4 separate regions of the Homo sapiens genome follow, and all the other regions are linked to region 3. Evidence: fine-mapped expression QTL. A gene starts in region 3. Each other region holds a variant in brackets. All regions are shown on one strand. Distances are from middle to middle.

Region 1 (2,679 bases), 48 kb before region 3:
TTCAGTTTGATTTTAGAAACACTTAGGCAGGGTCTAGTCTGCCTTTTGCCATTGCATTTTTGTTTCATTGTTTATTTATTGAGATGAGGTCTTGCTCTGTCACCCAGGCTGGAGTACAGGGGCATGATCTCAGCTCACTGCAAGCATTGGCCCCCCGGGCTCTAGCAATCCTCCTACCTTAGCCTCCTGAGTACCTGGAACCACAGGTGCGCACCATCATGCCTGGCTAATTTTTTGTATTTTTAGTAGAGACTGAGTCCTGCCATGTTGCCCAGGCTGGTCTTGAACTCCGCCTTGGCCTCCCAGAATGCTGGGATTACAGATGTGAGCCACTGCACCTGGCCTCATTATTTTTATGCTTTTTTGAGATAAGTTCTTGCTCTGTTGACCAGCCTGGAGTGCAGTGGTGCAATCACAGCTCACTGCAGCCTCAACCTCCCCAGGCTCAGGTGATTCTCCCACCTCAGCCTCCTGTGTAGCTGGGACTACAGGTGCATCACCATGCCTGGCTAATTTTTTGTAGAGACTGGGGTCTCCCTATGTTGCCCAGGCTGATCTCAAACATCTAGGCTCAAGCGATCCACTCGCCTTGGCCTCCCAAAGTGCTGGGATTACAGGTGTGAGCCTCCGTGCCTGGCCTGCTTCATTGCTTATGATGATGAAAAGGAGTGGTGGGGGAGGATAAGGATGGGCATTCCCAGGACAAAAAGGTTTCCTAACATGTGACCTTGCCTTCCAGCCACATCTGACTGAACTAGAGACTGCTGCTCACACTGGATGGCCAGAATGAATCAGATCATGCTTTGTGTGTATCATAGCTCAGGTGCTTATATAAGCAAACCAATTAGGTGTTCATAGGATCTGGAATTAAGGGTAAGAATCACGGTCAAATTGATCACAATGGCAGGTCTAAATCCTGAAGATGAATGATGAGGCAGAGCCAGAGATGTGGAGTGGGTAGCTGGACTGTACAGAGAGATGCTGGCTCCTAATGTCGCAGTGCTGCTCAGATTCAGTCACCACGAGACCCAGCTCCACTGCTTCCTGTCTCGGCTTCTGAAACTTGCAGACTTGTACCTTTTACTGATGTTTTAAATGGGAGAAAATAATTTTCAGAGGTCTCAGTATTTTCTGAAGGGCAGACAAAATTTTCCCTGAAATATCTTTAGACTTAAATAATTTCTGAAAATATTCAATCTAAATAGCCACTATGACAAGGACTTTAGAATTTATATATCACAAAAGACAGGCAGACGGAGAGAAAGAAACAAGAAGAAAACAAAAAACCATGGTAGGTGCTCAATAAATATTTGTTGACTCAGTAAAGATAGTTTTGACCATAGAATTAAAAAGGTTTTGCATTTCATATTTATTATCAGTGCTTCAATATAGAATGTTTTGTAATGATTAGCAACATTGTAAACACCACCAGGTTTTTCCAACACTAACTGCTAGTCTTTTCCAGTAAATATTTTTTCCCCAGACAAAATAACCAAACCTAACACAATTTCAAGAGATGGTGATACCATCAGCATAATAACCCAAATTACAAAAATGGCAATACTTAAAATCATGCATATTATTTCACCATTTCATAAAACTTATTTTAAAATTTCTACAAACTTTCCCAGTGTAAAAGACTCCTCAAAAGCTGCATGATAACATTAAACTACAAAATTCACTTTGGAAAAGTAGGGAGTTATTTTTCTAATTTT[A/G]GCTTTTTTTTTTTTTTAAATGGGTTAAAAGATACGGTGAGGAGTGTGTTGAGAGAGGTGGAGAAAAGGAGCTTCCAGTCAATGCATTCACCATATCTGAAAATACTTCAGTTATACAAAGGGAACACTTCGAGAGTAAGGATATATTATAAATAAGTCTCTCAGCAAGATGAACGGATGAACAGTTCAATTGCACCCACAGGAGAGAGGTCTTCTTGGAGAATGCTTGTTTATAGAATCTTCTGTAAAATAGAGTTGGCTACTTCTAATGATTCATCTTGTACTAAAACAATATCATAAGAGTCCATGTACTTTTCTAAAAGCTCATCCACCTAATCAAGAGATGAACAAAAGAAAATTAACATGCAGGGCAAAGAAACAAATAATTTCAGTATGAATCTCGTTGTTAGATCTCTTGGGCAAAATGCAATAAATTAAATTCACTTTCAAAAAATCTTTGAAATGAAGAAATATTTTCAAATCCTTAAGACCCACTGACAGACATTTTTCCACATGGTAGCTTTTCTCCCCAAAATGCTCTCTCTCCAGTCCAGTGGCTTTCAAATGGGGTGATTTTTGTCCACGGAACATTTAGTAACGTCTAGGGACATTTTTGAGTCTCATGGCAGGAGACTGCTATCCAGCATCTAGTGGGCAGAAGACACAGAGGCCTCCTACAGAATACACATCCTCCCTTTTCCCAGTACCTATAGCATGCATCTCAGCTCCTTTTTAAACATCACCAGTATAAAGAACAATCAAAATGCATGATCACAATATGTTTTGGCTGGGCATAGTGGCTCACGCCTGTTATCCCAAGCACTTTGAGAGGCCTGGAGAATCACTTGAGCCCAGGAGTTTGAGACCAGCTTGGGCAACACAGGGAGAATTCATCTCTAAAAAAAATTTAAAAATCAGCCAGGTGTAGTGGTGTGCGCCTGTAGTTCCAGCTACCTGAGGGGCT
Region 2 (2,688 bases), 22 kb before region 3:
GCATTCTGGCACTATTCTAAGGAAGACACTGAAAATTAGGGCAGAGTATTTTTAAACCAATAGGCTTGTAAACCTATACCTGGTATATAAAGTTCTGGCTTACTTTGCCAATGGTCATCTGTTGCAGATGCTTCAAGAGAAGAGTTGCTGGAAAAAACACATCAAGTGTAGAAGACGTGTTCAAAAATAGAAAATACTGCCCTTGATCTACGAACTCTCTTCAAAGGAAGTTTTAACATTTTAAGTCTTCAGAGTCTTTAAATGTGAACTGGAAAATGTGGAAACTGGAAAATAATTACTTTGTGTGCTTTTTGTATGAGATTAAGGTCTCTACTATAGCAGAGTTCTTTACAAGGAATATGTAGGACAAGTCTAAAGACTGAAGCAAGAGGTAAGAACTTCACTTAACACAAACTTGATAACTGAAAACTTTAGTTATCACAGTATTTCATTCTGATGATAGTTTACAAGTCAATTAATGAAAATTGATTGGTATGTCTACATGAAAAAAAATTACCTGATTTAAAGCAAGTCTTAAAGTACCTGAATGCAAACTGATTACTTTTAAAGGTCTACTTGACTCTGTCTTACAGGAAAGTGAAAAAGATTAAATTCATGAATATAGCTTTAAAAACTGTGACTGCTTTAATTGTGATACTCGCAGAAACATGTAAACTACATTGATAAGGTAATAAAATTGTGAATGCTAAACTGTGTATTACTCACATAAGAAAAGGCATATATTACCATAATATGGACACAGTATCCGCAACAGTACCAAACATCAATTTTTCCTATACTTTTTCAGTAACCTGTACTATTTGACTTTCTTAAGCTTGGGTTTTTTGTTTTTTTTTTTTTTTAATGTTACTGTCTTCGGGTGATTAGCACATGCAAAATCAAACTGTAACTTCATCTTTTCTGTATGGCTGTAATAATTTGGTGGGGCATTTAAATAATTCTTCCTAATTAGATTTTCAACTCAGCGGTGGGGAAAAAGAAACACACACGCTGCAAAGTGAAACTTTCTCAATACAGGCATAAAACAAAAATGAAACTAAATAGCAAAGAGTGGGAGGGGTAGAAGAGATATAGGAGGAAAGAGGAAAAAACAGATTTCAAAAGCTAGTTATTTAAAAATGGGCAATTTTAACCAATTTTCCCAAATGGTAAAGCAGCTACTGAGTCAGAATTTTGTGGATATTTATGCAAATAAACAATTTCAATGTTTAGAATTTATTCCTCTATCCTTCCCACATTCACTACCTCTAATATCTAATAGCATTTTTTCAAGATAAGTAAACCACA[T/C]ACAGCACATGGAAACTAAGTAATTTATACTGACAACCCTTAAGACACCCTGAGTTCTTCTGTCCTTGAATTTGTCCTAGGACAACAGCATAGGTGACAAGCACTACCCAGAGATGCCGGGCTTGGATGCAGGCTGCCAATAAAAACTAAGCAAACTGCTTTAAGAAATGATCTGCAGCATGATCTAACTTCTCTGATTTAAAGGAAAAAAAAACCTATAAAATATAGATAATTCAATTATTTAAATATAACTTAGCCATAATATTCTAGGCTTTTACTGTAATATAAATTTTTGAATCTTAATTTTCAATATATAATTTGTTATAAATCAGTAATCTAGCTTTTATCAATTCATAAAACATACCAGTGATAATCCCATTCTATAAAATCCTGGGTAAAGCTCACATGCACAAAATAAAAATTGATAATCTTTATTACTACCCATAATAACTGTTCCTAATCCTAGTAACACAAAGCTTGTGGCTGTCAGTAAAACTGAGTCACATAGCCAACTGAATGAACAACCAAATTGAATCTTAGAGTGTTTCCCCTCAACCTGGAAAGAGACTTCTGAAGGTACTTTGCTTTTTCTCAACATCTACAGGTGAAACAAGAAGCTCTTAAAATTAGAACATATAAAATGTAATTTCTGAGACCTAAGACTCTTCAAAGTTTTGCACATTCATTTCTTCACAAATTATAAAGAAGTTTTGCATTATACTGGAACATTATTTTATTTCCTAAGTTTGTATTTCAAAATGCCCAAAATTTCAGTAAGTTATAGAATCAAATAAGAATCACATAAAGTTAGACAAGAGAAACTCATTTACATGAACCGTACACACTTACCCTGAAGGTAACCGGACGAGCTACACCAGCAAAAGAAAATTCTTCCTGTCTGAGAAGTACTAATATAGCACAAGGTGCAACTGAGGGCGGTTCCAAAAGCCTTGACTAAGCCCTATGCAAAAACCTTGTGACGCACTGCTGCACAGTACTTTATATATGCTCTTGGTTACAGCCTCGCTAGCTCTGAGCTAGTCACAAGTCAATCTACATAACATTATCAATTGAAGTTATGTGACGATTAAAGAGAAGGTAAATCTGTACTATTAGAACTGGCAACTGGCTCTGGAAAGAAAAGAGGAACCTCTACACTAACACTTAAAAACATTCCTTTCCACCTGGTTTGTCAGTGGTTTGTCAGTGTACTTCTGATATGTGAACTTTTCTGTATATTCTATTTTAATACAAAGTTAAAAAGATTAGGTTGCTGTTGCCAGGGCTGGAGGAGGAGGATGGGGAATTATTGCTCAATGGATAGAGTTTCAGTTTTAGAAGATGAAAAGAGTTCTGGAGTGGACAGTGGTTATGGTTGCA
Region 3 (2,688 bases):
TTAGATAAGTGGTATACAGACCAATCCATAGTTTAAGCACAGGCAGGGAGATATGGCAACTCGGTTTTTTCCCCTACATAGGCATTATTAACCTTGGGCAAAAGAAAGCCAAGTTTTCTAAGCAGGAAAGCAACAAAAGCAAAATGAAACTTCTGAGTTAAAACCATTTGCTGCTGTGGGCATACAGATGTGGGACAAATGAATTTTAATAAGCCTTTAGAATTATTAAGACCCTTTAAGAATAAATTAATTCAAAATTAGGGAATATTATTGGAATATGAGACAAGTGGGAATTAACTTTTTTTTTTAAGAGACAGGGTCTCGCTATGTTTCCCAGGCTGGAGTGCAGTAGCTATCCACAGGTGTGATTATAACCTTGAACTCCCAGACTCCAGTGATCTTCCTCTCAGCCTCCCAAATAGCTGGGACACTGGCTAATTTTAATTATGCAAATACATCTGTATTCAACCTGGGGTCAGTACAACCAATAGGACAAATCGTGTCTTTCGTCAGTTGGAACATATTGCAGGTGCTCAGAAATTCCAAGTATTACACCCTAAAATGATATTATTTAGTGTAGATTTTAAATTTTTTTCTATCATAAATCATCTGACCCTAGATGTTCACATGTATAGCACACGGTCAGGCGTATACCCAGGATTATGCATTTCAGGAAATACATAAGCGTGCAAGTTTGTGCAAGAATTGTCTTCCTGAGTGGGTTCTAATTAAAATACAAAACGAAACTAAATATCCTCATTTTTGAAACAATTACTTATAATGTATCTCAAAGGGAATTCTTGAGACACCCTCTTCAATAAAAAATTAAATTCGAAAATGTATACAAGAGCTTTGGGAGTTAAGATGAAAACAAAGATATTTCGTGGGAGTTTTGAGACAAGAAGGAATACATTCAAATACAAAATAAACTATCCTGAATTTCTCCTGGATTGCCATTCTTGTAAAATTTTAGATATTGCACATTTTCATAATCTAACTCACGGCAGCCCCAACATAAAACTAGTCCTCTGCGGGAATTGCAACTAGATTAGCGGCAACGGTTTGACGCGGATCCGGGGGGAGGGCGGGAGCAAGGCAGGGAGAGAAGGAGCCACCTGCCCAGGACATGCAGCTTATCTCTAGAGAAACGGGTTTTGCAGCACAAAGTAGCCTGTGTCCGATTCATCTATTTTCTGCCTTGTTCCTTCAAACGGAAACCTAACAAAGACCACGGGCAGCCAAGGGCCGCAGCCGGGGACCCAACCCTGGTCACCAAGCCCGCGGAGTGGCCGCACGCGGGGCGGCCGGGTCCCCCAAGCTGCGCGTCCCGAGCTAGCGAGATCCCAGCCTGACAGGCGACGCCGGCAGCTCCCCGTCGCGACCGAACAGCGGCCCAGCACAGGCTGCCGAGGCCAGCGGACGGCCCAGCCGGCCCCTCGCGTGCTCTGGGCGCGCCGAGCCTCCACACTCACCATCTCGATGATCTTGGTCTTCCGCCCCGTCTTCCTCTTCAAGGTGAATATGTACTGAGCCAGCACCACCCCCGCCACCAGGGCGCACACGCTGGCGCTCGCTACCGCGCCCACCCTCGCCACGGCCGCGCGGTCCATGGACGGGGCCCTCATGCGCGTCCAAGCAGGAAAAAAACAGGCAGCTCGCGTAGACTGCGAGTCTCGGAAGCGCGGGATCCCAGAGCATCACGGACGAGCCCGCGACGCCCCGCCCCGCGCAGCGACGCCCCGCCCCGCGCAGCTCCGCCCCCACGAAGCCCCACCCACACGCCATCGATGGGAGAGGCCAGGACGCGGCGGGAGGGGTGTGGCCTGTGCCCGGAGCCCAGGCTGGAGGCGGCCTTCAGCAGACTCAGGGTCTCACGAGCTGCTGTCAGGGCAGGGCAGAGTATTGCGGTAATTATCCTTCTCTGCTAATGAGGATTAGGCCGTGGTTCGCTCGAGCCCCGCCCCAGTAGAAATCTAATTCCAACTGCGGCCCGCTAAGAAGTCGGTCTCCGCCTTCGCGCCTCAGCCCCTCTGGACTCCGACCCCCAGAAGGCTGCGCGGCACGGTGTGACCTGCGCAGTGGCGTCCGTTCTAAGTGCTATAACAACAGGGGGAAGATGGCTCAGAGTTAGGCTGGAGAGGGGCGGTGTCCCTTCCGCCGCAGCCGCGGGGTTTCTGCTACATCCCATTCGCCACCTCCGCCATCCTTTTTTCTGTGTGAGCAGAAGGGCTTGCAGTTGTTCTCTCCTGCCTAGTGTCTTCCAAGGGATAGATGCCATTTCTTCTGCTGGTCTCTGGGGGTGAGGAGGGGCGCAGGGGAGCTTCTTGGGGGAATCGCTCCAACTCTGTGGAGCTGGTGGTGCTGCCTGGTGGGGCTCTCTCTGCCCAGGACGTGGAACAACTTTCAGCCGGAGGACTAGAGGAAATAGTTGTAGGGGAGGAAAAATTGTTTCCTTCTAGCCTTTTAGGTCATTTGGCTGGTCTACAAATTAAATTGATGTAAGACAGAGGAACATGAGAAAAACGATTTGTCGACCGAAAGGTGAAATAACAGGTACTAAAACTTAAAGAAATCATGGTTAGTTTTATTACTCGGCCAAGTTTGAGGACTTAAGCCTGGGAACACAGACTCAGTATAGACCGAGAACGTGTCCCAAAGTAAGTTAGCTGGGAGTATAACCTGAAGAAG
Region 4 (2,688 bases), 44 kb before region 3:
CACTTTGGGAGGCCAAGGTGGGAGGATAACTTGTGGTCAGGAGTTCGAGACCAACCTGGCCAACATGGTGAAACCCTATCTCTACCAAAAATACAAAAATTAGCCGGGTGTGGTGGCAGACGCTTGTAATCCCAGCTACTCGAGAGGCTGAGGCAGAAGAATTGCTTGAACCCAGGAGACAGAGGTTACAATGTGCTGAGATTGTGCTACTGCACTCCAGCCTGGGCAACAGAGTGAGACTCCATCTCAAAAAAAAAAAAAAAAAAGAAGAAGTTTTACTACTTTTATTATTAGTCTATAGCTTGGGGAATGAAAGTTTAAGAAGGGCACATTGTTTTTAAAATATGGATATATTAACACTGAGAAGGATGGAGTCCCACAGTGGGCCTATCGGCTTGGCCTAATTTCTGGATATAGGATATATATTAAGTAACAATAAATAAATTTACATGATTAAAATATTTTCAGATTTTAAAATTATGAAGAACGATTTGATATTCTTACAGTTTCATCAAAATCCATAAAATTGGACACAACTTTGACATTGGGATGATAAACACCAGCTTGACGAATAACTTCCTCTAGTACATCGCCGATTCCAGCCGAAAATATGAACACGGGGATGCTATGTTGTTGGAGCTTATCAAAGAAATTCTCATATCCTTCTCTGTAAGATGGAGATAACAAACTGGTTATTAAAGAGCAAGATATAGTTCCTTTTTACTTAGAAGCTAAAAAAGTGAAATATTCCTAGTAATTCTATGGCTCACTCATATTCTCATTTCAATATACTGCCCAAGAGGGCTGTTATTGATATCTACAATACTACAAGTTTTTCAAACAACAGTTAACTCTTTACTTTCCCTTTAATCAATTCTAATACTACAAACTAGATGTCTTTAAGCTTTCACTGAATATGAATATAAACCTACAGTTCACAATTTATACCATTTAAAAAGAAATAGGCAGGCATAGCAGTGCATGCCTATAGTCCCAGCTATTTGGGAGGCTGAGGCTTGAGGATTGCTTGAGCCCAGGAGTTCTAGTCCACTCTGGGCAACATAGCGAGACCCTGTCTCTAAAATGAAATTTAAAAAGAGAAAACAATAGTTAAGCTACACCTTGAAAACCCCACTTAGGGGTTAAAACATGGATATATTAACACTGAGAAGGATGGAGTCCCATAGTGGGCCTATCAA[C/T]TTGGCCTAACTTAATGGATATATATTGACCAACAACAAATACATTTACATGATTAAAATATTTTCAGATTTTAAAATTATGAAGAATGACTTGATATTCTTACAGTTTCATCAAAATCCATAAAATTGAAAAGAAAAGCAGAGTGGCAGGAACTTAGATGTATTCTCGACATCTGGCATGTGTCTTTACTAAGATCTTAAGCCCTCTTCCCTTTTTTACCCTTCCTGGGCCATAGGTTAAAGAATGCTAATGTTGCCTACTAAGGAATGAAACACTTACTAGCTGTCCTCACACTTTTTCTGACAATTTATTGCTTTCCTTTTTAGAAGTAATCACCTTAAAATATAACATCATCATAAAAAAGTAACATCATCATATTTGCCTAATGAGTTGAAAATTTTACGAGGTAATAAACAGTATTAAACAGGCTCTTGGGCCGGGCGCAGTGGCTCACGCCTGTAACCCCAGCACTTTGGGAGGCGGAGATGCGCAGATCACAAGGTCAGGAGATCGAGACCATCCTGGCTAACTCGGTGAAACCCCGTCTCTACTAAAAATACAAAAAATTAGCCGGGCGTGGTGGCGGGCGCCTGAAGTCCTGGCTAGTCAGGAGACTGAGGCAGGAGAATGGCGTGAACCTGGGAGGCGGAGCTTACACCACTGCACTCCAGCCTGGGTGACAGAGCGAGACTCCATCTCAAAAAAAAAAGAAAAAAAAAAGCTTCTTGTATCTTATAACTCATGCATACATATATAATTATGTACTAAAACATACTAATCTTTCCTAGGAATAGTTTTCAAAGAAGTTCGAGAATTTAAAAAGTAGGCTTATGTAAATTTAGACATAGTATACTGCCAGGCATGGTGGCTCACACATATAATCCCAGCACTTTGGGATCGCTTGAGCTCAAGAGTTCAAGACCAGTCTGGGCAACATGGTGAAATCCCATCTTTACAAAAATATACAAAAATTAGCCAGGCATGGTGGTGCATGACTGTAGTCCCAGCTACTTGAGAGGCTGAGGCAAGGGGATCGCTTGAGCCCAGGAGGCAGAGGTTGAACTGAGGAAGAGATTATGTCACTACACTCTAACCTGGGCAACAGAGAGAGACCCTGTCTTTAAAAAAAAAAAAAAGTATACTTAAATCCCTTTTAACTTGATTTATACATTCCTTTCATATGTCTTTCCTAAGTATTTTGCTAAAAAATTTTTAAATGGCCTTGGTTCAAAAATTTTAAGTCTTGACATTTTTAATCTGGAGAAACAAAATACAAATTAGAATTTAAATCTCATAAGGCTCTTACTACCTACACCAAGATCTAATACGTCATTCTAAATTCCTTATCTTACCACTATGTATTTTGTGATAGGTGGCATATTTTGGATATGGTTATATAAGGAATATTCAATCTTATTTTTAAAAAGTACAACTGACTACATAAATAGCAATAATTCAAGTCTGTGAACAATAACAGCAAAAAACATC

Direction of the effects. Alleles are on the strand shown, and positions count from the first base shown. SD is a standard deviation of normalised expression in the study named. Not every link is listed here.
For the expression in putamen of the gene that starts at base 1,681 in region 3, allele A in region 1 goes with a higher level than allele G (moderate effect, 0.43 SD a copy in GTEx).

What was found.
Region 1: its variant is fine-mapped to the expression of NT5C3A in putamen (GTEx, PIP 0.90).
Region 2: its variant is fine-mapped to the expression of NT5C3A in whole blood (INTERVAL, PIP 0.90).
Region 4: its variant is fine-mapped to the expression of NT5C3A in whole blood (INTERVAL, PIP above 0.99).

What each region holds. Positions count from the first base shown.
Region 1 is chr7:33,012,785-33,015,463 of GRCh38, forward strand. It overlaps NT5C3A (5'-nucleotidase, cytosolic IIIA), which reads right to left. Exons shown (of 9, transcript NM_001002010.5): 9 at 1,346-2,047. The coding sequence ends at 1,946. Among named protein-coding and RNA genes, the nearest start is that of NT5C3A, 49 kb to the right of the region's middle. The variant A/G (reference allele first, on the strand shown) is at 1,716.
Region 2 is chr7:33,038,715-33,041,402 of GRCh38, forward strand. The region is part of intron 1 of NT5C3A (5'-nucleotidase, cytosolic IIIA); the gene reads right to left. Among named protein-coding and RNA genes, the nearest start is that of NT5C3A, 23 kb to the right of the region's middle. RefSeq lists a silencer at 2,214-2,313. The variant T/C (reference allele first, on the strand shown) is at 1,309.
Region 3 is chr7:33,061,096-33,063,783 of GRCh38, forward strand. NT5C3A (5'-nucleotidase, cytosolic IIIA) reads right to left here and starts at 1,681. Exons shown (of 9, transcript NM_001002010.5): 1 at 1,473-1,681. The coding sequence starts at 1,610. It overlaps LOC124901610 (a long non-coding RNA gene), which reads left to right and starts at 2,090. Exons shown (of 4, transcript XR_007060279.1): 1 at 2,090-2,553. RefSeq lists silencers at 1,316-1,375, 1,676-1,795 and an enhancer at 2,036-2,195.
Region 4 is chr7:33,016,935-33,019,622 of GRCh38, forward strand. NT5C3A (5'-nucleotidase, cytosolic IIIA) reads right to left here. Exons shown (of 9, transcript NM_001002010.5): 7 at 505-667. Among named protein-coding and RNA genes, the nearest start is that of NT5C3A, 44 kb to the right of the region's middle. The variant C/T (reference allele first, on the strand shown) is at 1,200.